Regions from separate parts of the Homo sapiens genome. Here region 1 is linked to region 2. The links come from fine-mapping of genetic effects on gene expression. Tissue or cell type: whole blood. Region 2 holds a variant in brackets; the other region holds the start of a gene. All regions are shown on one strand. Distances are between the middles of the regions. Region 1 holds the start of KLHL13 (kelch like family member 13). Region 2 has its middle 96 kb from the start of KLHL13.

Evidence for each region.
Region 1: KLHL13 starts here. The variant in region 2 is fine-mapped to the expression of KLHL13 in whole blood (TOPMed, PIP above 0.99). The same link has a PIP of 0.9 or more in blood mononuclear cells.

What each region holds. Positions count from the first base shown.
Region 1 is chrX:118,110,977-118,122,207 of GRCh38, reverse strand. It overlaps KLHL13 (kelch like family member 13), which reads left to right and starts at 5,398. Exons shown (of 8, transcript NM_001168302.2): 1 at 5,398-5,700.
Region 2 is chrX:118,207,214-118,218,444 of GRCh38, reverse strand. No RefSeq gene overlaps it. Among named protein-coding and RNA genes, the nearest start is that of KLHL13, 96 kb to the right of the region's middle. RefSeq lists an enhancer at 6,635-6,704. The variant A/G (reference allele first, on the strand shown) is at 5,556.

The DNA of each region.
Region 1 (11,231 bases), 96 kb after region 2:
AGGTATTCTAGTACATTGTAGTGTTATCTCATTGTGGCTTTGATTTGCATTTCCCTAATGACTAATGATGTTGATAATCTTTTCATGTGCTTGTTTGCCATGCTTCTTTGATGTAACTTCTTTGGTGGTGTCTGTTCAAATAGTTTACCTTTTTTTTTTAATTTGTTGTTCATATTCTTGTTATTGAGATTTGAAGGTTCTTTATTCTGTATGCAAGTTTTTTAATATTAGATATGATTTTTGCATATTTTCTACCGGTCTGTAGTTTCTTTTTTCATTCTGTCAACAGTGTCTTTTATAGAAGAGTTGTTTCTTTTCAATTTTGATCAAGTTCAACTTCTTAATTTGTCTTTTTGTGGACCATGCTTTTCGTGTCATATCTAAAAAATCTTGGCTTAACCCAAGGTCACAAAGGTTTTTGCCAAAGTTCTGGAAATTTTCTAGCTCCAGATTTTACATTTAGGTCTATGATGCATTTTGAATTAATTTTTGTAGATGGTATTAGGTATGGATCTTAGTTCACATGGATGTCCAGTTGTTCCAGCACCATTGTTGAAAAAAGCTACCCTTTCTCCACTGAATTGCCTTTAAATTTTTTAAATGGACAAATAATAATTGTGCATATCTGTGGGATACAATGTGAGGTTTGCGTCTATGTATACATTATAGAAAGATTTAATCAAGATAAATAACGTATCCATCACCTCACCAACTTATCTTTTTTTTGTGGTGAGAATTCTAAAAATCTATTTTAGCAGTTTTGAAATATACACTATTAGCTGCGGTCACCATGCTGTGCAATAGGTCACTAAAATTTATTCTCCAGTCTAACTGAAACTTTGGACCCTTTGATCAACATCCTCACTTTCCCCATGCTTCCTCCTCCTTCCCCTGCCTCTGATAACCATTTTTCTACTTTCTGTTTCTATGAGATTGACTTTTTTAGATTCCACATATAAGTGAGATCATACAGTATTGTCTATGTCTGGCTTATTTCACTTAGCATAATTTCCTCCAATTCTTTCCATGTTGTCATGGATGCAAATGACAGAATTTCTTTTTTAAGGTTGTATAGTATTTCATTGTGTATATGTACTACATTTTCTTTATCCATTCATTCATTGATGGATTCTTAGATTGCTTCCACGTTTTGACTACTATGAATAATGCTGAAATAAACACTGGAGTGCAGATATCTCTTTAACATACTGATTTCAATTCCTTTGAATATATACCCAGAGAGGGGAAAGGAATCTGAGCAGGCATTTCTCAAAAGAAGAGATACAAATCCCCAACAAATATATTAAAAAATGTTGAAAATCTCTAATCATCAGGGGAAATGCAAATTAAAACCACAGTGAAATATCACCTCACAGCTGTTAGAATGGCTATTGTCAAAAGGATGAATAACAGGTATTGACGTGGATGTGGAGACTGTTGGTGGCAATATAAACTGGTGCTCTCACTATGGAAAGAAGTATGGAGGTTCCTCAAAAAGCTGAATTGCTTTTGAATATTTGTTGAAAATAACTTGCCCATATACGTTGTGGGTCTGTTTATGGACTCTATTCTGTTTCATTGATCAATACCACACTGTCTTGAATATTGTAGCTTTACAGTAAAAATTGAAATCAGGTAGTATTATCCCCCTAATGCTCTTTGTAAAAGTTGTTTTGGCTATTTTATTCAATTTCCATATGAACTTTAGAATCAGCTTGTCAATTTCTACAGAAAAAGCCAGCTAGGACTTTGATCGGGGTTGTGCTGTAACTATAAATCAATTAGGAGTGAATTGACATCTTAATGATATCAATTCTTCTGCCCTATGAATACAGTATATTTCTACATTTATTTAAGCCTAAAGTTTTCAGGACAGGTCTTACACATCTTTAATCAGATTTATCTCTAACTTCTAAAGCAAGACCCTTCTGTGTATGCTACCCAAAGCCCTGTGAGGGTTTTTTTTTTTATAATAGATTCCATTCAATAATAGGCTCCATTCAATAATTGATGAGATGAGTGTTTTGAGGAAATGCAAATTTACCAGAGAGACAAAATGTATCCTAAATAGTTTTCAATTTGTTTTTTAGTCAGAATTAATGCAGTTGAAATCTTTTAGTTTCACATTAGGCACACAGCAAGCTTGCAAATGCTTTTAGACCGATTAGGGATCAGCTACCAGCTCTGTGTACTTTGGTGTGTGTGTGTGTGTGTGTGTGTGTGTGTGTATGTATGTTATGTGTGTGCCCACATCTGCCTGTATGGTCTCTTAGTTAATTTTTATAATTGTATAATTAATTGGTGCTGTCAAATCTTTGGGGCATGGTAGGGAGAATTCTAAGATGGTCCTAAGATTCTTGTCTTCTGTTATACATTCTCCACTTAGGTATGGTTGGGACCTGTGAATATGCTGGGCTATCACTCTTGTGATTAGGTTACATTATGTGGCAAAGGTGAAGAGATTTTGCAGATGTAATCAAGGCACACAGTTAATTTTTGAGTTAATCAAAGGGGTGATAATCTTGGGTGGGCCTGACTTAATCTGGTAAAAGACCTTAAAAGAGGCACTGGACCCCTCCTGAGGAGAAAGAAGTTTTTCTGTTGGCCTTGGCTAAGTAGAACAACCATGTTGTCAACTGCTAATGGAGAGGGGCTGCCTCTAGATCCAGTAAATGCTACGGGTCTTAATTCTGTAACTGCAAGGAACTGAATTTGGCCAACAATCTGAATGAGTTTGGAAGAAGATTCTGAGTTGCACATGAGAACACAGCCCAGCCAAAAACTTGATTGCAGCCTTGTGAGACCCTGAGCAGTGCTCCAAGCTAAACCATACCTGGACTCCTGACACGTGGAAACAGATAATTAATGTGTGTGTTTTTAGCAATGAACAATAACTAAGTCAGCGGATACTCTAGCTGGCATTTGAAATGCTTCCCATTATGTTCGTTTGCTAGACCTGCCATAACAAAGTATAACACCATAGACTGGGTAACTTAAACAACAGAAATTTATTTTCTTGTAATTCTGGAAGATCAAGGTGTAGGTAAGTTTGGTTTCTTCTGAAGCCCCATCTTGTCTTGCAAGTGGTTGCCTTCTCACTGCATCCTCACATGGTCCTTCCTCTATGTGCATATATGTCTAAGTCCTAAACTCTTCTTAAAAGGACACCAGTCATATTGGATTCGGGCCCATCTTAGAGACATTACTTTAACTGAATTACCTCTTTAAAGACCTTTTCTCCAAATGCAACATACTCTCCCATGTGTTATCTTATTTGAAACCCAAAACAATGCTGTGGGGCATATCAGACCAGTATTATTTTGCTCCCCACTGGAAATTTGGGAAAACACTCTCAGAGCACTAACTTAATGTCACATAGCACATAAATTGTCTTCTGACTCTGAGTCTAGTGCTCTATCCAGTAGATTAAGTATTCAGATAAAGCATCCGAACCCAAACAGCAATGGACTTCTATTGGATAAGCATATTTGTAATATCTTATTGCCAGTTCTTTTTCTTTTTTCTTTTTTTTTAAACTGAGAATCTGTGCAAGCTACTGGCAGTTCAAATGCAGATCCTGCAGTTGCCCCCATCTCAACACCCTTGCTATGAGGGTTTTCTCTTTGTGTAGATAAGGGCTGCTTGGCCCACACTGGATTATCCCATTTTTACTGGCATTTCTGTGGGAGAAACTTATTATAAAGTAACCCCACTTGAACCTTTTTATGGCAGGACAAAGCAGTGACTCGAGTGTACACCAGCTCAGTTTGTACTTATTTTTTTTTTAACCTGTGTGCCAGGTTTTTGATACATGCTAAAAGTGATTGTTTGGAATATATCACCTCAGTGAGATTGTAAACTTCTGTACAAGGTGCTTTCTACCCAATAAGCATTTAGTGTGTAAGGTAGGTATACAATAATTATTGAATAAGCATAGTGGAGAAGCCAGTGGAAGCATTCCTGTTAACAAAGGGGAATTGGGTTCAATACACTTGCACGTAAAAGGTAATAATGCAAATTCTATGTATATTTGGAGTTCTTTGATTATTTGGTAAAGTCCAACAATGTGGTATTATCTTTAGTTCTAGCAAGTTTTTGAGTAGCTGATTATTCTCAAATTTACCTAAAACCTACTACTAGAATTTCAGTGTATGTAAGTTGAAATACAAAGTCAGCAATGTTGAAGATCTCAGATCCCAGAGGGAGAAATCCTAGAAAACATAAAGATTCCACACTCACCGCATCACTTCCTTAAGAAGAAGAAGAAGAAAAAAACAGCCAAAGAAAAAAAATCACAATAGTGATTAAACTGGTTGCTAAGAGCAAACTCCCTTTATTTTCCCAAGGAGGAGTCTGGAATTATAAGTAGAAAGGGCAAAGGAATAGGTGTAAGAAGGTGGCCCCAGGCTGTAACCGTCAAGAAGGCAAAGAATGAATAGAAGACAAGCAAGGGGAAAAACAGGCTTGACTGGGGTTTTTTTTGGGGGCTAGGCTGATAGAGCAGAATCAAGATTCTGACTTAGAAGAGCAGTCCCACCAGAGTTTGGAAGCAGTTTGCATAGTGGTTAAGAGCCTGGGTACCAGAATCACACCGCTTGGGATCCTGAGTCCCGCTCTGCCACTTACTATTTATGTAACCTCTGGCAACTTGGTTAACCTATACACCTCAGTTTTGTCACTTGTAAAATGGAGACAATAGTGTGTAACTTGTAGAGTAGCTGTGAATTAGGTAAGTTGATGCTTCAGTGCTTGGTTCATAGCAGACGCTCAGTAAAATGTTAAACTGTTATTTGTAGTTTTTATCCTTCCTCTTTCTTAATGTTGTGTACTGCAGCAGGGAGGGGGAGGGATGAAGCGCTTATCCCACTAGAAGAGTGATATTTGTGTGAGAGCCTGGGTCAGGCTTATTTTGAGACGTGGGCCCCACTGAGGTGAGGTGGCACCGCTTCCAGGGCACACCCTTTGCTCGGGCCCCGCCGTGACTATGAGGAGGCCGAGGCCACGGCTGGCAGAATGCACGGGTGGACCTCCTTGGAGTGGCTAACCCGGGGCGGCTGCACTGTTGTCCCTGGATACTTGACACTTTTCACTTTTTCTGCCTCCCGGCACTAGAATCCATGTGGGCTCACACCAGAGCCTCCCGGTTTCCGAGGCGTGAGGGCCACTTAGCGGTCATTCAGCTTCAGGGTCCGGCCCTGTCACGCTTTCGCTACAGCCTGGGAGTTCCGTTCGGACCCCACACACCGTCCTAGCCCCGGCTCCCCGCCACCCTGCCTCCCGCGCAGGCGCCGCCGGGGCCACCCCCGCCGCCATGTTTCCCCCGCCCGCGCGCTCCCCCCCCCACTGCCCCCTCCCTCCCCAACTGGGTTCCCGCCCCCCTCCCTCAGCAGCCCCCCCACACCCTGGTGAGGTCAGGCGGAGGCTCTGCCGCTGCGGCCGCAGTAGCTCAGCTCCTATTCCTGGGAAGCCTGGAACGGGGACTTTTGAAAATAACTGCAGCGGCATTCGGGTTAGGGTCCGTGCTCTCCGCCTGCGCCAGGACAGGGTGAAGTGGTCGGGGCGAGCAGAGGGTGCGAAGGTGCGGGTGCTGGTGCCTCGCAGCAGGAGGGAGCCCCGGCTGCGCCGCGCGACTCCCTCTTTGGCCCTCGGAGCGCAGCACCCGGCGGACAAGCGGCGGGACGCCAGGACGCGGCGAGCAAGGTGAGGCAGGGTCCTGAAGTCACAGGGGCTCCAGCAGCCGCTTCCCTGCCTTCGGACCCGGCGCTGCGCGGTGCGCGGCGAGGAGTTGCGATCTGTACCAGGGGCAGAGGAGCAGAGGAGCAGGGAAACAGCTTCATTTTGCCCGCCGCCCCCTCTTTTTCTCCCGCGTGCTGGTGCGCGCCCTCATCCTTACACCTTCGCATCCCTTTCTGCCGGTCCCTCTGGCTCCGTCGGACGCCTGGGTTCTTCTAGGACCCCAGAACCCGGCTTTCCTGTGCTTCTTTGTCATCTCTCCAAGATCTTCTCCTCTGGGCCTCGCTGTTGCTGCCCTGACGGTCTGGGGTCCCGCTGCCCGCCCCGGCCCTACTGTCTCTTGCCCTCTAACAGTTTCTGCTTTGTGCCTCCTAATCCATCTCTCCTTCAGAATCTTCTAACTTAGGAGGCTCCTCTGCTGGCTCCCAAGTCAGGAGCACACTCCTCTTCTTCCTCGAAGCTTTTAACTTAGCTCTGAATGTCTTCAGCTCTGAATATTTTGACTTTTTTGTTTGTTTGTTTGTTTAATTACAGTTGACTAATGATTTTCTTGGAGGCTTATAGTCTAGGCTACAGTTTACTGAAAGTGATGAGATCATTCCTTCACTAAATAGCCTTAGTAAATATCAACTAGGGAACTTTAAAGTTTCTTTCTAGGTTTCATTAACTTAGTCCAAGAACAATAGCCACTTAAAATGTATGTATATATGTTGGTACGCAATCTTCGTACATGGTCCTAAATCTGATTCTTCCCTGGCTGCTGAGCAGGCCTGAGAGAGAGGATTGGTGGGAATTGTGATGCCTGGCTCCATTTCTCTAATTGTAAACTAGGATGTTAATCGTTTTAATGTAGTCAGAGGACTTTAGTGGTTTGGGATAAAGTCGCTCAAGTTAGCATAGGCTGGTAACTAAGCACATTGAATGGAGACTAAGAGACGCTGGGATTTAAAACTGTCTCTGGAGGGCACCTGCTTTCTTTTTTTTGAAGCCACAGTTTCTTAACAGTAGATTTCATGTTTGTATAAACCCTCTAAAAGCAGCATATTTTAAAACCACGTAGTTACAAAAAAGACTACTCACTCTTAGCGATATCGCTTTCTCCCCATGTAGTTGTGGTGTTAGCTCCCATACTGAGGTTCATTTGCTCACTTTCATACTGCAATTAGTGTGTGAAGAAAGCTGAATGGAGAAGCACAAAGTGGAGGCAAATACCAGTGAACAAGCACATGCTGACATACGCAGCTGTGTTTTTGGAAATAGACTGTATCTAGTGTTCAAATTTAAAAACTGAGAAAAATGAAATAATTCAGCATTTATGACATCATTTTACATCTAAAAATATTAGCTCCCTTAACTGCAAGTTCTTATTAATATCCTCATACTTAACGGTAAAAGAGTTGTTTGCCTGATGTATGACCAAGTGTTGCCATTGACACAGTGTGCACTAATTGGCAGCAATCTCAGAAGAAACCAGGTTGTGAATGAAGATAATGGCTAAATTTCACTGTCCTGGTAGCACGTCTTATGGCAGTGAGATGAGAGTAGTTTCTGCTGCAACATCAAATGATGTATTTAAAAAACAGATAAATAAGAGCTTCAATTATTAAAAAGCCCAAGGTTTTCAATCTGCCATTTTTATAAGCACACTTCAAAAAGTGTAGTGTGATTATATAAGGCTCAGTTGATGTTCTGAAGAAAGTAGTTTTCACAAGAAAAGTAAGGCCTATTGCTTATCAATTTAGTTAGATAACTTGCAGATGATTTGTAGTTTCCCAATTGATTTGGTAAATTCCTGAGTTTACTTGAGGTTTATTAAAAAATGGAATGTAGTAGGGAAAGGGTACTTATTCTAATAGGCCCACTTTCTAAGTCTGTAATTTTCTTAGCAAACTATTCTCAAAATACATAAAAACTTACAACTTTTTCAAGGAAAAGAGTTTATACTATTTTCTTACTTTTTTCTTTTCATGCTTATTATTGATACAAAATCTAAGCTAAGATTGCTGCTAATGTGATTGCATAGTAAGACTATTTATATTTGCCAGGAAAAGAATAAAGGTGGATGAGTTAGCCATAAGCATTTTGCTCTGAATCTTCAATATGACTCAATATGTGTTTGATAGTCCATCTGGTACACCTAGAGGTTAGCAGACTGGATATTTCTGATATTACTAAATGTAACTGCACTTACTTATTGGATTATCTTCTTTCTCATTTTATGTACATTTCAAATTATGCTTCTTCATGTAATTTGACTTGCAGTAGTGAAATGAGACTGACCAATTTTCAAATTGTTTGATTTTTATTGATGTTTGATAAACCACTAAAACCTCTTGAAAATATTTTTTTCTTAAATCCACTGATTGAAACCGATGTATTTTTATTGCTATGAAATAATACAACAAATTTCCAGGAATTATTTCAGAAAATGTGGAAAGACTGTAGAGAAATGAATAGCCCTAGAGAAAATATCTCAAAATTATAAAAATGGCTTTCTCAAGTTACTGATATTCATAACAATCAGGTTTTTATGTATCATTCATTCATTTACTAATTCATTTTACAAAATCTACTGGGTACTTGTGTGCCAAGGCCCTGTGTTAGGCACAATGATAAACCTTATAAGGCATGATCTTTGCTCTTGTGGAGTATCACAGTGCTTATATTCTACCAGAGAATACAGACAATAAACGAGCAAACAAATGAAGAAGATCCTTATAGACTGTAGTAAGAGCAATGAAAATAAGTAGGGGAATATGATACAGATAGCTAGGAAGGGCCTACTTTAGTGTGGGAAGTCAGAAAAGGCCTTTCAGAGAAGATGATTGAGCAGAGACCTGAAAGAGAAGAGAGAATAGGCCTACCTTGTCAGGATCTGGGAGAACATTCCCGAGATAACATTCTTGCAGAGAGAAGAGTAAGAGCCAAGGCCTTGAGGGGGGAAAAAGAGACTTGGCGTTTTTGAAGAGCAGAAAGCAAGCCAGCATGGCGGATTAAAGAAGATGTTACAGAGCCTAGAAGCAGCTCAATAACCGATAAATAGGACTTGGAGGTCCTGAGAAAGAATTTGGGTTTGATTCTCAGAACAATAGGAAGCCACTGAAGAGTCTTTCCTGGGGAAGGTCATTGGCTTAAAAAAATTATCCAGGGAAATTTAAAAAAAAATGTTTTGCAGAGGATAAATAGAATGTCTACTCATTCAGTCATTTATATTAATACCTGAGAATAAAAAAAACTCTATGATCAGTATGCTAAATAATCATGTAATTCGGTTCCTCTACTCTGTTTAGGTAAGGGGATGGGGGAATGGGAACCCTGAGGTGAGTATGTTAAAAGGCAGTTTACTTTCCACTGTCACATTGTGACTTGTGCTACAAGGTAAGTTGTCACCAACTTTATTAAAAATCAGATCATTGTTCAACTTAAGAATTTATTTTTCAAAGAATGATATCTTATTTTCTCATGGAAATATGTTTCCTTTGGAAGGTTGGAAATTTTATTTTGTATAAAGGAATAACCTAGGTTTTAGAAAGGGCCTTTGGAATTTTAAGAAGGGCTTATCATTTTCTTTTACCTGTTGCCTCTCCAACATTTTCAAATGGCCATACCTTTATTCCTTGAGAGATTAGGGTTACTGTGTTTCCTGAGGCTTAAATGAATTTATTGCCCTAAGCCCTTCCTTGAAAGCAATCCAGCTTTGAGGTCTAGTTGGTCCCAAATAGGAATGCAGATGATTATTGACATTCCATAGGAGTAAATCCTAATATTGTGGGGGAATAACCTGCAAAATAACCTTCATCAGTGCCTGCAGGGTCAACTTGATTTGATCCCAGCCTACTTTCCCATATGTCCTTATTATTCCCTTTCACAAATCTCTATTGGTTTAAACTGATTTTCCCCAGTTTGGAACTTTTGTGCTTAGCATTATTCCTGGCATAGAGTACGTGCACAGTGGGTGCTTGTCAAATGGATGCCATGCCTTTCTTTTTTGTCATTTCAAATTCCAGGTCCTATTACACTATTCCCCATTGAACTAGATCTCCCCCTCTGAAGGTGAACAGCAGTCACACACTTGCCCTGTTGTGTCATAATTATGCTTATTTGATGCCTGGCCATCTCCCCACTTGCCTCTGGCTTCATGAAGGCGACCTAGACCTCATCCGGTTTGCTCATTGTTGTATTCTGAGCACCCAGCACATGGTATGCACTTTATAAATAGTTATTGAATAATGAATAAATACTGTCTTGTGATGTTTCTCCTATTAATTTTTTGATGTTAGATCATTTAATACTGTTTTACTTTTCACGTGTTTGGTGTTCCGAAGTGGTTTCTGAGAGAGGTTGTAGAGCATACTTGTTAAGAGCTCAAGCTCTGGAGCTAGGCCACCTAGGTTTCAATTCCAGCTAGGAGACTTAATAGTTGTGAGACACTGGGTGAGTCAGTAAACCTCCCTGTACCTCAGTTATCTCATATGTAAAAAAGGGGTAATAGAACTTGCCTCTTATGGTACTTGCAAAGATTACATGAATTAGCTAGGCCCACTTTTTCTTTTCTCTTTTTCTTTTTCTTTTTTTTAGACGGAGTCTCGCTCTCTCACTCTATCGTTCAGGCTGGAGTGCAGTGGCATGATCCCGGCTCACTGCAACCTCCGCCTCCTGGGTTCAAGCGGTTCTCCTACCTCAGCCTCCCGAGTAGCTGGGACTACAGGTGCGTGCCACCACGCCAGGCTAGTTTTTTGTATTTTTAGTAGAGACAGGGTTTCACCATGTTAGCCAGGATGGTCTCGATCTTCTGACCTCGTGATCCACCTGCCTCGGCCTCCCAAAGTGTTGGGATTACAGGCGTGAGCCACTGCTCCCGGCCTAACTTTTTATTTTTAGTGGAGACAGGGTTTCACCATGTTGGCGAGGCTGGTTTCAAACTCTTGACCTCAGGTGATCCACCCACCTCGGGCTCCCAAAGTGCTGGGATTGCAGGCATGAACCACCTCCCCCGGCCTAGGCCCACAATTTGTTTGCAATTTTTAAATTTCTAAAGCTCTGAAAACTGAAAAAGATTTTATTTGGTAACTTAGATGCCAAAACTCATGTGGTGGCAAAACCTGACTTAAACTGACATAGGGTATTTATAGTCTTTATTCTACTTAATGTTGATCTTTATTTTGTTTTGCTATAGAATTACTAATATGTTTATGGGGTTGCACCATAGACCCTAATGGTGTATTACATAACATATGGTATATAAAGTATATTTCCTGTCTAAAGGTCTGGACATTTCTAAATTCAGAAACACATCTGGCACCAAGATTTTTCGATGAGATTGTACACCTTGCAGTAAACTGCTTAAATCAGGGCCTTGCACATAGTATGTTGTTGCTGTGGGTGGTGGAGATTAGGGAGGTAAATAAACTACTTTATCTTTCCCAATAGCTTGCTCATAATAGTTACCATGTAAATATATACTGATTTACTCATGCAATAACTGTAAATAGAGGACT
Region 2 (11,231 bases):
ATACACACAGACACATACACACACAGACACACATATACATACCCACACTTACACACATACACACATGTGCACACACATACTCACATACATATGCGCACACACAGACACACACATACACACATACACATACACATATGCTCACACATACAGACACATGCACACACATACGCACACGTACATACACATACATGCACACATACACACCCCCCATATACACACATACACATACACGCATGTACACACATATACACACACATACACAGGTACACACACATGTAAACACACACAAACACATACATACACTTCAACTTTTTCCTTTCTTCCTCCTTCTCCTTATCCATATACCAGTCTATCAGTCCATCTTTCACATTGGAGCTAAATCTCTTTGTGATCCAGGCACACCAGCAGTACCTCAGCCTCACAGTTTAACTTATTTCCTATGTACATTCCTACCTGTGTGAATTTGCTCACATTGGTCCCTTTGCCAGATATAACCTCTCCTCTCTAACTCCTTTAACCTCTGATAGGCAGACTTGAAACTTTCAAGGTCCAACTCAAGATCCGCCTCTTCCATGAAGCCTTCTTTGATCACCCCAGTCAACTTTGATCACCCAGTGTCACCCCAGGGCATTGAATTTTCCCTCCTTGTATTTGTGGAAAAACAGGTAGAGAAAATTGACTTGACTCTAAAGGCGGCAAGTAGAACAAAATATCAAACATATGCACATTATAGAAGCTAGATTAATGTTGGCTGATGGGCCTGCACCATTAGCTTTGGTTGAGGCAGTATCATTGTAGTGGTTAAGAGCATGGAGGAGGCCGGGCATGGTGGCTCATGCCTGTAATCCCAGCACTTTGGGAGGCTGAGTTGGGTGGATCATGAGGTCAGGAGATGGAGACCATCCTGGCCAACATGGTGAAACCCTGTCTCTACTAAAAATACAAAAATTAGCTGGGCGCGATGGCATGTGCCTGTAATCCCAGCTACTCGGTAGGCTGAGGCAGGAGAATCACTTGAACCAGGGAGTCGGTGGTTGCAGTGAGCTGAGATCGTGCCACTGCACTCCAGCCTGGTGACAGAGCGAGACTCCGAAAAAAAGAAAAAACAAAACATGGAGATGGAGGAGGCACATGCCTAGGTTTCAATACCAGCTCTGCTGTGTACTGGCCGTGTGATATGGACAAATTACTTAACCTCTAAGTCTCAGTTTCCTCATCTATAAAATGGGGATACTAATAACATCTACCTGGGGTTATTGTGAGGAGTAAATAAATTACTTTATATAAAGTGCCTGGCACATATGGAGCTCCATGTAAGTGTTAGCTGCCATTATTTTGGAAGCATAGAATTAGTTGAAAGTAATTCTAATCAGATGGGGTAAACATATTGCAAAGGATACATTGGTTTCAAGGGAAATATTACCATTAGGAGAGGCAGAAATGTAAGATAGTATTCACATTCATCTCGTTCAGGCATGTCAGAAAGATCAACAACACTTGTTCCATTATGGATTCTAAAGTAACTCTGTGAAAATATAGAATTCCAACCTTCATAATGAGACTTTAAAGGGGGCTGCGTAGGCGAGGGCAGGGGGAGATGGGGAGGGAGAGTCAGCTGCTGTATGGACTTCTCTGAAGAGAGCCCTTATAGCTGGCCTGTCCCACGAGCAGCCTTTTGATATTCTAGGCAGCTGCCTGACACTGCACTTTGGTGCTCCACAGTGTAATTAACGGGCATGCACACAGCTGCCTTGTCAAACAATTGACCAGACTTGGCAGTGTATGCTACAGAGGCGGGGTGGTAGCAGGGAGCACCTAGAATACATTTACCACCTTGGGCACTGGGCTTTCCCAACAGCTCTGTAATAACACTGCAGCTGCACCCTGAGCACTTCTCAAAACAGTGTTCCTGCTAACTTCTTAGAGGGGACTATCCAAATTCCTCGATTCAGAATGCGTTTCCATTTTCTACCTTACACAACAACAATATCACTAGCTTGACCTCCTCCTTGATGCTATCAGAGTCAACTGTGACTGGCCCATTAGTTTTTTTTGTTTCTCCTCTAAACCACACAAATACTTTTTCATCTCTATTACCATTAGCCAGATAAATCTTGTTCAGGGAAGGAAGTGTAAGAGGAAGTGTGATGTCAGGAAAAAAACACGGGACTGGGAATCAGAAGACTGCATTTTTTGTTATGGCTCATTAGTTTTATGACCTTGAGAAAGTCGTTCGTTCACTCTGGACCTTTGGGTGTTGTGTACAAGTGAGATGGTTAGGTTGGAGAGGAACTTTCTGGGATATTTGTGGCTTTGAGGATTTAATACTCATAAGCCATTGCAGGGGCTTATGATCTTTGGATCTTTGATGTCATGGAGCCCTGTATAAGAATTTCAGAACCGTCCCTACCCTGAAACTTTGCTTGTTGACAAACAACTGACTCTTAATCAGAATAGCATCCCTGTCACTGAAACTTCCAGCCTACCGTGTTTTTCAGCCTTTCTTGAGGGTGCTGAGTAATTTTAACATGGGGTTGTATTTGGAATGCTACAGCGGCTTTTGGTACAAAGCTCCAGAATGACAAGACAGACCTGAGGATCAATTATAAGCCCAGCTTTGCCATTCCATATATAGGGTGTGTGCCCACCCTGTACTTGCTCATCTAGGTTATGTTTTCCACATTTTATCTGTGTCAGACATCAGGCTCCTAATTTGAGAAATATACTGTTGGTTTTAGCTGAAGTCATTTAGCTCATTTCCTTGTTGGAGAAATGTTGTCTTACACATACAGACTTCCTCTAGAGATGGAGGGGATGGCCCTGGCAATCCTACTGTATGCCTTCTGCACGTTTTTATCCATTTGAAATCAGGTTGAGGAGAACACCAGGGACGGCTCAGAGGGAGTTGAGAATGCCTAAAAAGGATATCAACAGCCTCAGGGTGTGTGTGGTCAGAAGGTTGAGACTCAATAGCCCACAGTACTGCTGGTTTTGCCTGAGGAGTGAGCAATATTTATGGATAACAGCCAGTTGTGTGCACCTCTTCCTGACTATGCATTCACTAATGTGTAGTTGGTACCTTGACATGGGCCATGGTGGAAATATTTTCAGTATAGAAATCAGCAAACACTACAAATCAGATATGTTTTAAAAAAATCTCTTTCTTTCTCTTGTTCAATTGGATAATTTCTTTTCATTCATCTTTCAGTTCAATGGCTCTTTCCTCTGTCATCTCCAATCTGCTATTGATCCCTTCGAGTGAGTTTCAAATTTTTGTTATTGTGTTTTCCATTTCTAAATTTTACATTTGGGCTGGGTGTGGTGGCTCACGCCTGTGAGGCACTTTGGGAGGCCAAGGCAGGCGGATCACTTGAGGTCAGGGGTTCGAGACCATCCTGGCCAACATGGTGAAACACCGTCTCTACTAAAAATACGAAAAAATTAGCTGGACCTGGTGGTGCGTGCCTGGGGAGGCTGAGGCAGGAGAATTTCTTGAGGCTGGGAAGTGAAGGTTGCAGTGAGCCACTGTGAGATCGCATTACTGCACTCCAGTCTGGGCAACAGAGGAAGACTCTGTCTCAAAAAGAAACAAATCAATAAATAAATTTTACGTTTACTTCTCTTTTATATCTTCTATTTCTTTTAGAGATTTTCTATGTTTTCAATTATTGCAAGAATGTTTACAATTGCATAGAAGAGCATTTTTTTGTTTTTTGAGACGGAGTCTCACTCTGTCTCCCAGGCTGGAGTGCAGTGGCGCGATCTCGACTCACTGCAAGCTCCGCCTCCTGGGTTCACGCCATTCTCCTGCTTCAGCCTCCCGAGTAGCTGGGTCTATAGGCGCCCGCCACCACGCCTGGCTAATTTTTTTGTATTTTTAGTAGAGATGGGGTTTCACCGTGTTAGCCAGGATGGTCCGGATCTCCTGACCTCGTGATCCGCCCGCCTCAGCCTCCCAAAGTGCTGGGATTACAGGCGTGATCCACTGCGCCTGGCCATAAAGACGGGGTTATTCTCAAGTTACAAATGAGGATACTGAGGCCCAGGGTGGTGTGGCAACTAATTGTTCAGAGGCACAGATAGAAAATGGTAGACCTGCCTGAATGTAATGTGAAAGATTGCATAAGGAGTCTCCTTGCTTATACCAACACTTGGTACAATCAGCCTGTAGTGTGTTGATAAGTGTTCAACAACTGGATCTCCAAGGAAGAAATAAAGGGCCCTCAGCTCCAGGCAAGATGGAGTAAGCATGCTTCCACCCACCATTTCCTACTGGACAGAATTCATGGGGCAGCTATTTGAAGATGCTGAAAAGTAGATAGTAGCAGGCCGTTTGGGGAAGAAAACCTGAATTCAAATATTACCAAATCGATGGTGAGTTTACTCCCACCCCCCAATCTACCCACCCCTCCATCTCCAAGATATTCCCCAGCCTAAACACAACACAGCCTGAAACGTGAAAGTAGGCATCAGCACAGAGAAAGCTCCAAGAAGAACTCAGTCTGAAACCTGAAAGTAGGCATCAGCACAGAGAAAGCTCCAAGAAGAACTCTCTCTCTCTCCCTCCCTCCCTCCCTCCCTCTCTCTCTCTCTCTCTCTTTCTTTTTTGAGACAGGATCCCACTCTGTTGCCCAGGCTGGGGTGCAGATGTGCTATTATGGCTCACTGCAGCCTTGGGCTCAGGTGATCTTCCATCTCAGCCTCCTGGGTAGCTGGGACTACAGGCTCACCCCATCACACCTGGCTAATATTTTAATACTTTTTTGGTAGAAACAGGGTTTTTCCACGTTGCCCAAGCTGGTCTCTAACTCCTAGGCTCCAAGCAATCCTCCCAACTCAGCCTCCCAAAGTTCTGGAACTACAGGTGTGAGCCCTGCACCTGGCCCCCTTCACCTTTCTGTGTAAGCAGTAAAACGAGTACAATGAAAGTGCATACTTCACAAGGTTATTGAGAGGATTAAAGGAGATAATACATTAAAATGCTCAATAATTATTGGCTATTATTAATATTGGGTCAATTTAATTTAGTGATTCCTGTGAGCTAGGCCCTATAGGGCTATGGAATGGATATCTTGTAGTTATAATGCCCATAGATGATTGTGTGTAAATACGCACACACACACACACCCAATCTTGGGGTGTTTTGGGGAACTCACTGACAGCACTACCTTCTCTCCCTGAGACACTGACCTGCCTCCTGGTCTCTGCAGCATTGCAGGGTGAGGAGCCACTGTCTTGATCTACTTTAAAACACTGGACCATGCTTATTGGACTATACTGAAGAGAAATTAATGAGCATGCAGTTAATCTCTGCAGATTGACTGAGGGCTCTGTCACTTTCTGCTTATAGCTTGTAGTCCTCAGTTCTTTTCAAGTTAATAGCTTGTGACTTTTTGGTCACTCTTTCTGTGGGCTGGGCTGACTGCTCACCCGGCTTCTCTGCAGGAGCAGCATGTGCATTGTTTCTGTTGCAAATGGTTCCTGGAGCTAGAATTAAGAGAAGTGGTTTTGCTGATACATTTTTGTGGTTTGTCTAACACCTTCTTTCTATAGCA[A/G]CACATCGCCTCTAGTTTTCCTCTTTGGGTGTCTGTTTGTGTTTTTAATTTCCTTTTTGTAGAGTCTTTTTTGATTAAAAATTTCTCCATGCTCAAAAGATGTTGAAATTCCATTTTAGCGTTTTGATAAGGGGTGGCTATAATATTTGATATTCAAAGCAGCAGCAGCAGCAGCAGCAGCAAAGCTCTTCATGTGATACGATACTGTTTGACATGCCCCAGCTTCTGTTGCCTTTTAAAAGACAGCATGGTGTGGTAAACAGAGCTCTTCACTGGCAGTCAGAAAAACTGATGTCAAGTCCAGTATCTGCTCCTCCCTTCCCTGGATTCATAGGGCAAGTCACATCACGGCTCTGCTGCTGAGTTTCTGTTATTTGAATACATTGAGGCTAGGGGCCACAGCAGCAGAGATGAGCTAAGGCCACAAGTGGAGCATATGGATACCAGCAACTGCAGAGGAAAATCTCAGTGACTGGCAAGAGCACATGATGCAGCCTGGGCCCCTGCTGGGGAAACCGAGGGATTTAAGGAGCTGGTTTCTGGCCAGTCTCCCTTTGCTTTTCCTCCCCCAGGTTGGTGAAAGTGCTAAAAACATGAGTTCACTGTGAAACACGGAGGCTTGAGGCAGATCATTACGGAAGCCTCTTAGCTCCAAAATTTGGGGTTTACCATAGGAGGGACTGGACTAAGGCAGGTGCAGGAATATTGGTGAAGCTGCTGCTGTTATCTTGGGGGCCCCAGGCAGGAGGAACAAAAATCAACTTATTTAATCTTGCAGTTTTCGTTTCCTCATTTCTGAAATGGGGATAATAATACCTCCTCGGCTTGGTGCTCAGTGCAGCTGTGAGGAGCAAATGTGAGAGCGGCTGCGAATGTGGTCCTGGTAGCACTCCCAAGCAGAAACATAAGCCATGTCAAGGTCCCATCTGGGAAAATCTGCTCCTTTCCTGGTCTTCCCCCTCTGGGCATCAGAACTTTAACTGCATTTGCCAGGTGGAGTCCATACAGTTCAGCTAACAGTACTTTAACACAACAAAAAGACTTAGCTAAAAATGACTCAATGCAGGCAACATAACTCTTAGGCTGCAAGCGATCCTCCCAACTCACAACATAACATAATTATCTACAACAAACCACAGATCCTATATTGGCAGGTTTTAATTTTTTTTTTTTTGACACAAGTTCTCGCTCTGTTGCCCAGGCTGGAGTGCAGTGGTGCAAGCTTAGTTCACTGCAACCTCCGCCTCTCAGGCTCAAGTGATCCTCCCACCTCAGCCTCCCAAGTAGCTGGGACTATAGGCATGTGCCACCATGCTTGGCTAAATTTTTTTTCTTTTAATTTTTGTGGAGACTAGGTTTCACTATATTACCCAGGCTGTTTTTGAGCTCCTGGGCTCAAGTGATACTCCCATTTCAGCTTCCCGAAGTGTTGGGATTGCAGGCATGAGCCACTGTGCCCTGCCAAGTTCTAATGTTATTTTCAATTTCCTCTTCAGTAAGGAATTGGGGAAGACCCCTATCTTTTGTGATTAGGAAATTGTTGCTGTTCTGGTGTATTCTGGATTTCTATCTTTTTCTCTTTGTCTAAGTCCTACATGTTCTCTTCTGTGTGTTCCCTGCTGTTTTTGTCTCATGCTAAGCTGCACTGAGATGGGTCTTTTTTTGGTATAAAGACACTCGTTAATTAATACAAGAAATTCACAGTCATTCAGCAAACATTTATTGTGTCGGCCATGTGCCACGCACTATGCTGGAGAGTGGGAATACAGAGATTTTTTTAAAAGTTCTCATCTTTTAGGCCTTTATAGTTTAGCAGAAGAGCCAAACAATTATAGTAGTGAGATAAGTGCTCTGATCATTTCATAGAGGGCCATAGGAGAGTACAACATAGTTGGGTATATTGATGGGGCTGGTCCCAGGGAAGCTGAATCTGAGTTGAGGTCAAAGGAGTAGTTGGAGTTTCCCTGGAGAAGGGGGCTAGGAGAAAGATTTTCTAGGCAAAGGCAGCATTATTTGCCAAGGTATTGGGGCACTGAAGGGCGTAGCATTTACAGGGAGCTTTAATAGCTTGGCTAAGTCAAAAGTAGGGATTAAGGAAGGTGTGGAGTGATGGGAGATGAGACTGAAGGAACAAGAAGGGGCTGGGGCATGAAGAGCCTTGGACATCCTGCTGGAAGAGAGTGGGAAACTAGTGGAGAGTTTTAAATAGGGAATCAACATGATCAGGTTTGTGTTTTTGAGAATAAGGTATTAAAAGAGGACTCAAGATGCTCAAGCACAATGCATCGAACACAGTCAGGAAATGTGACAGAAACCCACAGTTTCTATCCAGGAGATGGCAAGATGATTGGCTATAAGGCAGTAGCAGTGGGGATGGAGATCCAAACTTGTTCCTGTTGTCTTGGTCCAAGTAGTAACTGGGGTCTTACAGCAATATTGGCTAAGTGCTGCAGTGGTCGGGGCTTATAAGAATGGAGAAAAGGCCCTGGATTTGTCTTAAAGGAAGTCACTGGTTCCAGGGTGAAGGATGTGGATAGCAGGGAGTGATGATGGCAGTGCTTTCATATGCAGAGTCCAGGAGAGATTCAGCAAGGTACAGTATGTTGAGGTCAAGTCCATGATAGTTAATTTTTTGTGTTGTTTTTATTGTATCAAAGAGCACAAAATGGTGTTTGTGTTTTATTTGGCCTATACAACATTCCAAACATTTTGAGTCAACAATGAAAAACCAGGAGATTTTACAATTTACAAACTCACATTTCTGGTTTCTCTTGAAAAATCCAGACGCTCTGGCAACACTAGGCCTGCATTAGTTCATGTGGGTCAGCTGGAGCGGAGTAGCTACTGCACCCTTTAGATGGACTGTTTGCTCTCTAATCAACCACACACCCACCCCTCACACCGTGTATGCAGATGCACTCACACTCTGCCTGCTTAGCCAGGGTGGGCTTTGAGTTTGTAATCCCCAGGTTATCTCAGGCCTAGCTATTTTTTTTTTTTTGAGACGGAGTCTCGCTCTGTTGCCCAGGCTGGAGTGCAGTGGCGCGATCTCAGCTCACTGCAAGCTCCGCCTCCCGGGTTCATGCCATTCTCCTGCCTCAGCCTCCCGAGTAGCTGGGACTACAGGTGCCCGCCACCACACCTGGCTAATTTTTTTGTGTTTTTAGTAGAGACAGAGTTTCACCGTGTTAGCCAGGATGGTCTCCATCTCCTGACCTCGTGATCCACCCGTCTCGGCCTCCCAAAGTGCTGGGATTACAGGCCTGAGCCACCGCCCCCGGCCTCTCAGGCCTAACTTTAAAGGTGACTTGCAGCAGCCAGATTGCTCATACAGGATGGTCTTTATCATTCCAGTGAGCAGATTAAGCCATCAGCTGAGAATAAAGGACATGGAGAACAGATTGGATTACAGAAGTCATGACTGCACTTGTAAGTGTTGTCTTGATAACAAACATAGTAGGCTTAAAAAATCTTTAAGTATGAAACTTTCTCAAAGTTCTTTTACAAAATATTTCTTATTGTTCTGTATTGTGATTTCTTATTGTTCTGTATAGTCTGTTTACATGAATGTCTTTCTCACTCATCTGGTGAACCTCTTATGATCAGGAACTGTACCTTTTCCTTGGCTGTGGGTCTGATATAATATAAAGATATACATACATATATACATGTTGATATATGTGTATATATGTTGATATATATATATGTTGAAATATACATCTATATAATCAGACCCTTGAAAGGGGTTGATATCATAGAAGGATACACACACACATATATATATACACACTCACATATATATGTTGATATCTATCTATATATGTTGATATTGTATATATCTATTATATCAGACCCTTTCGACACACACTCACACACACACATATATATGTGTGTTGTGTGTGTATGTGTGTGTATATATATATACACACACACATATATATATATATATATATATATATACACACACACACACATGCACACATATATATATATGGAAAGGATAAAAGTGATGAAGGGGAGAATAAGACTGTCCCTTAGGGTTCTTGTCAGGAGACCAGATGAGACAATGTATGACCAAATGCTTAACACAGAGCCTAGCACGTAATAGACACCCAAATCGATTTTTCTTCCTGCATATGAAAGAGCTTAAAGAGCACATACTCAATAAAAGCTGGTTGCCTTTGTTTCCTCTTCCCCTTCTCTGATGTCAACATTCCTGGGAGATTCACCTTTGACCATTCTAGCAGGGCTTTTACATGCAGTGTCTCTCACTCAGCGGGCACTCGTTTATATATTCAATCCATTGATTACAATGGTAGATTACATACCTACTATGTATACAGTCTCATACTAGATGCTGCAGGGATGCTAGAGGTAAGACCCACTTCTTCTCTCTTGTTCTTTGCCTGGTAGGGGGATTAGACACATATTCAAGGAACTCTATATATGAAAAACAAACTATTCGATGTGCCACAAAAGAGGACAGGCAAAATGCACCTGCCATCCAGAGCAGCGTGGAACCCCATGAGGTAGGGGGAATCAGGAAAGGCTTCCTGCGGGAAGTGATACCAAAGACAGCATGGGAAAGGGTAGGATTTCAGCATGAGGAGGTGGAGTGGCTGTGGAGGCAGTTTTCTGCCTACATGCAAAGTTTTCCTTGGAATTATGCCTAGTTGTCAAAGGTCTTTTAAAAATCTAAATAAAGTAGACACATTGTTTCTTCTCTTGCCAACAGGTCTCTTTACCCTCTTAGACAACTCTATAGATGAATGATGCAAAAGCAAACCAAAACCTCAAAGTGAGACACTTAACTAGGTCATACCACCAGACTTACTTGAAATATCAAACTGGTATTATTTCTTTGCTTATACCTGAACACTCATTGGCAAATATTTACTGAGTATCTATTATATGTGAGCACTGGCACAGTTACAAGATACTGTGGCATATAAAAATGAATACAATATAGGCCATGGCCTCAAAGAGCCTTGACTCTATTGAGACAGATATGAAAATCATGTAATGTGGTAAGTAGTCTAGTGGTAAGTAAGTAGTCTAGTAGTATGGATCTGATCCAAGTGCTATGAATGTGCAGAGGAAGGCACAATTAACTATATCTGTAGAGAGGTTGAAGGAAGGTGTCACAAAGGAGGTGACATTTTTAGTGGGCCTAGAAGAATAAGTTGAATTTATCAAGGCAGAGAAGGGGGTAAGAGAATGAATTAATATTAATCAGAGCCAGGAACTTCAGGCTTAACCCTCAGTGAAACCTTGTGATCTAGCTATGATTATTTCCATTTTGCAGATGGGGAAATTGAGGCTCAGAGAGACCAAATGAATCATCTAAAGTCACATAGCTAGTCAATGTCAGAGTTAGGCTTTGAACTCAGGCTTCCCTGTCTCCACTATATCAAGCTGCCTTCATGGGGAAGAAGCAGGGGGCAGTAAGGATATGGAAAGACATTCTAGGCAAAAGCAAACTTTGCTGGAGATGAACAGGGTTTGTGTCAGCAGGGTCTCACTTTAGCTATGACCATAACTGCCTGACTTTGGAGCGCTTTACAGATGATTATCTCCTTTTTTGGACCTGCTTTTGAAGTTAGAGTTGTTCAATGCCTGCTTATATTGACTATAACATGCAGTTCAGCAAGCATTTATTGACTGAATTGGCTGCAA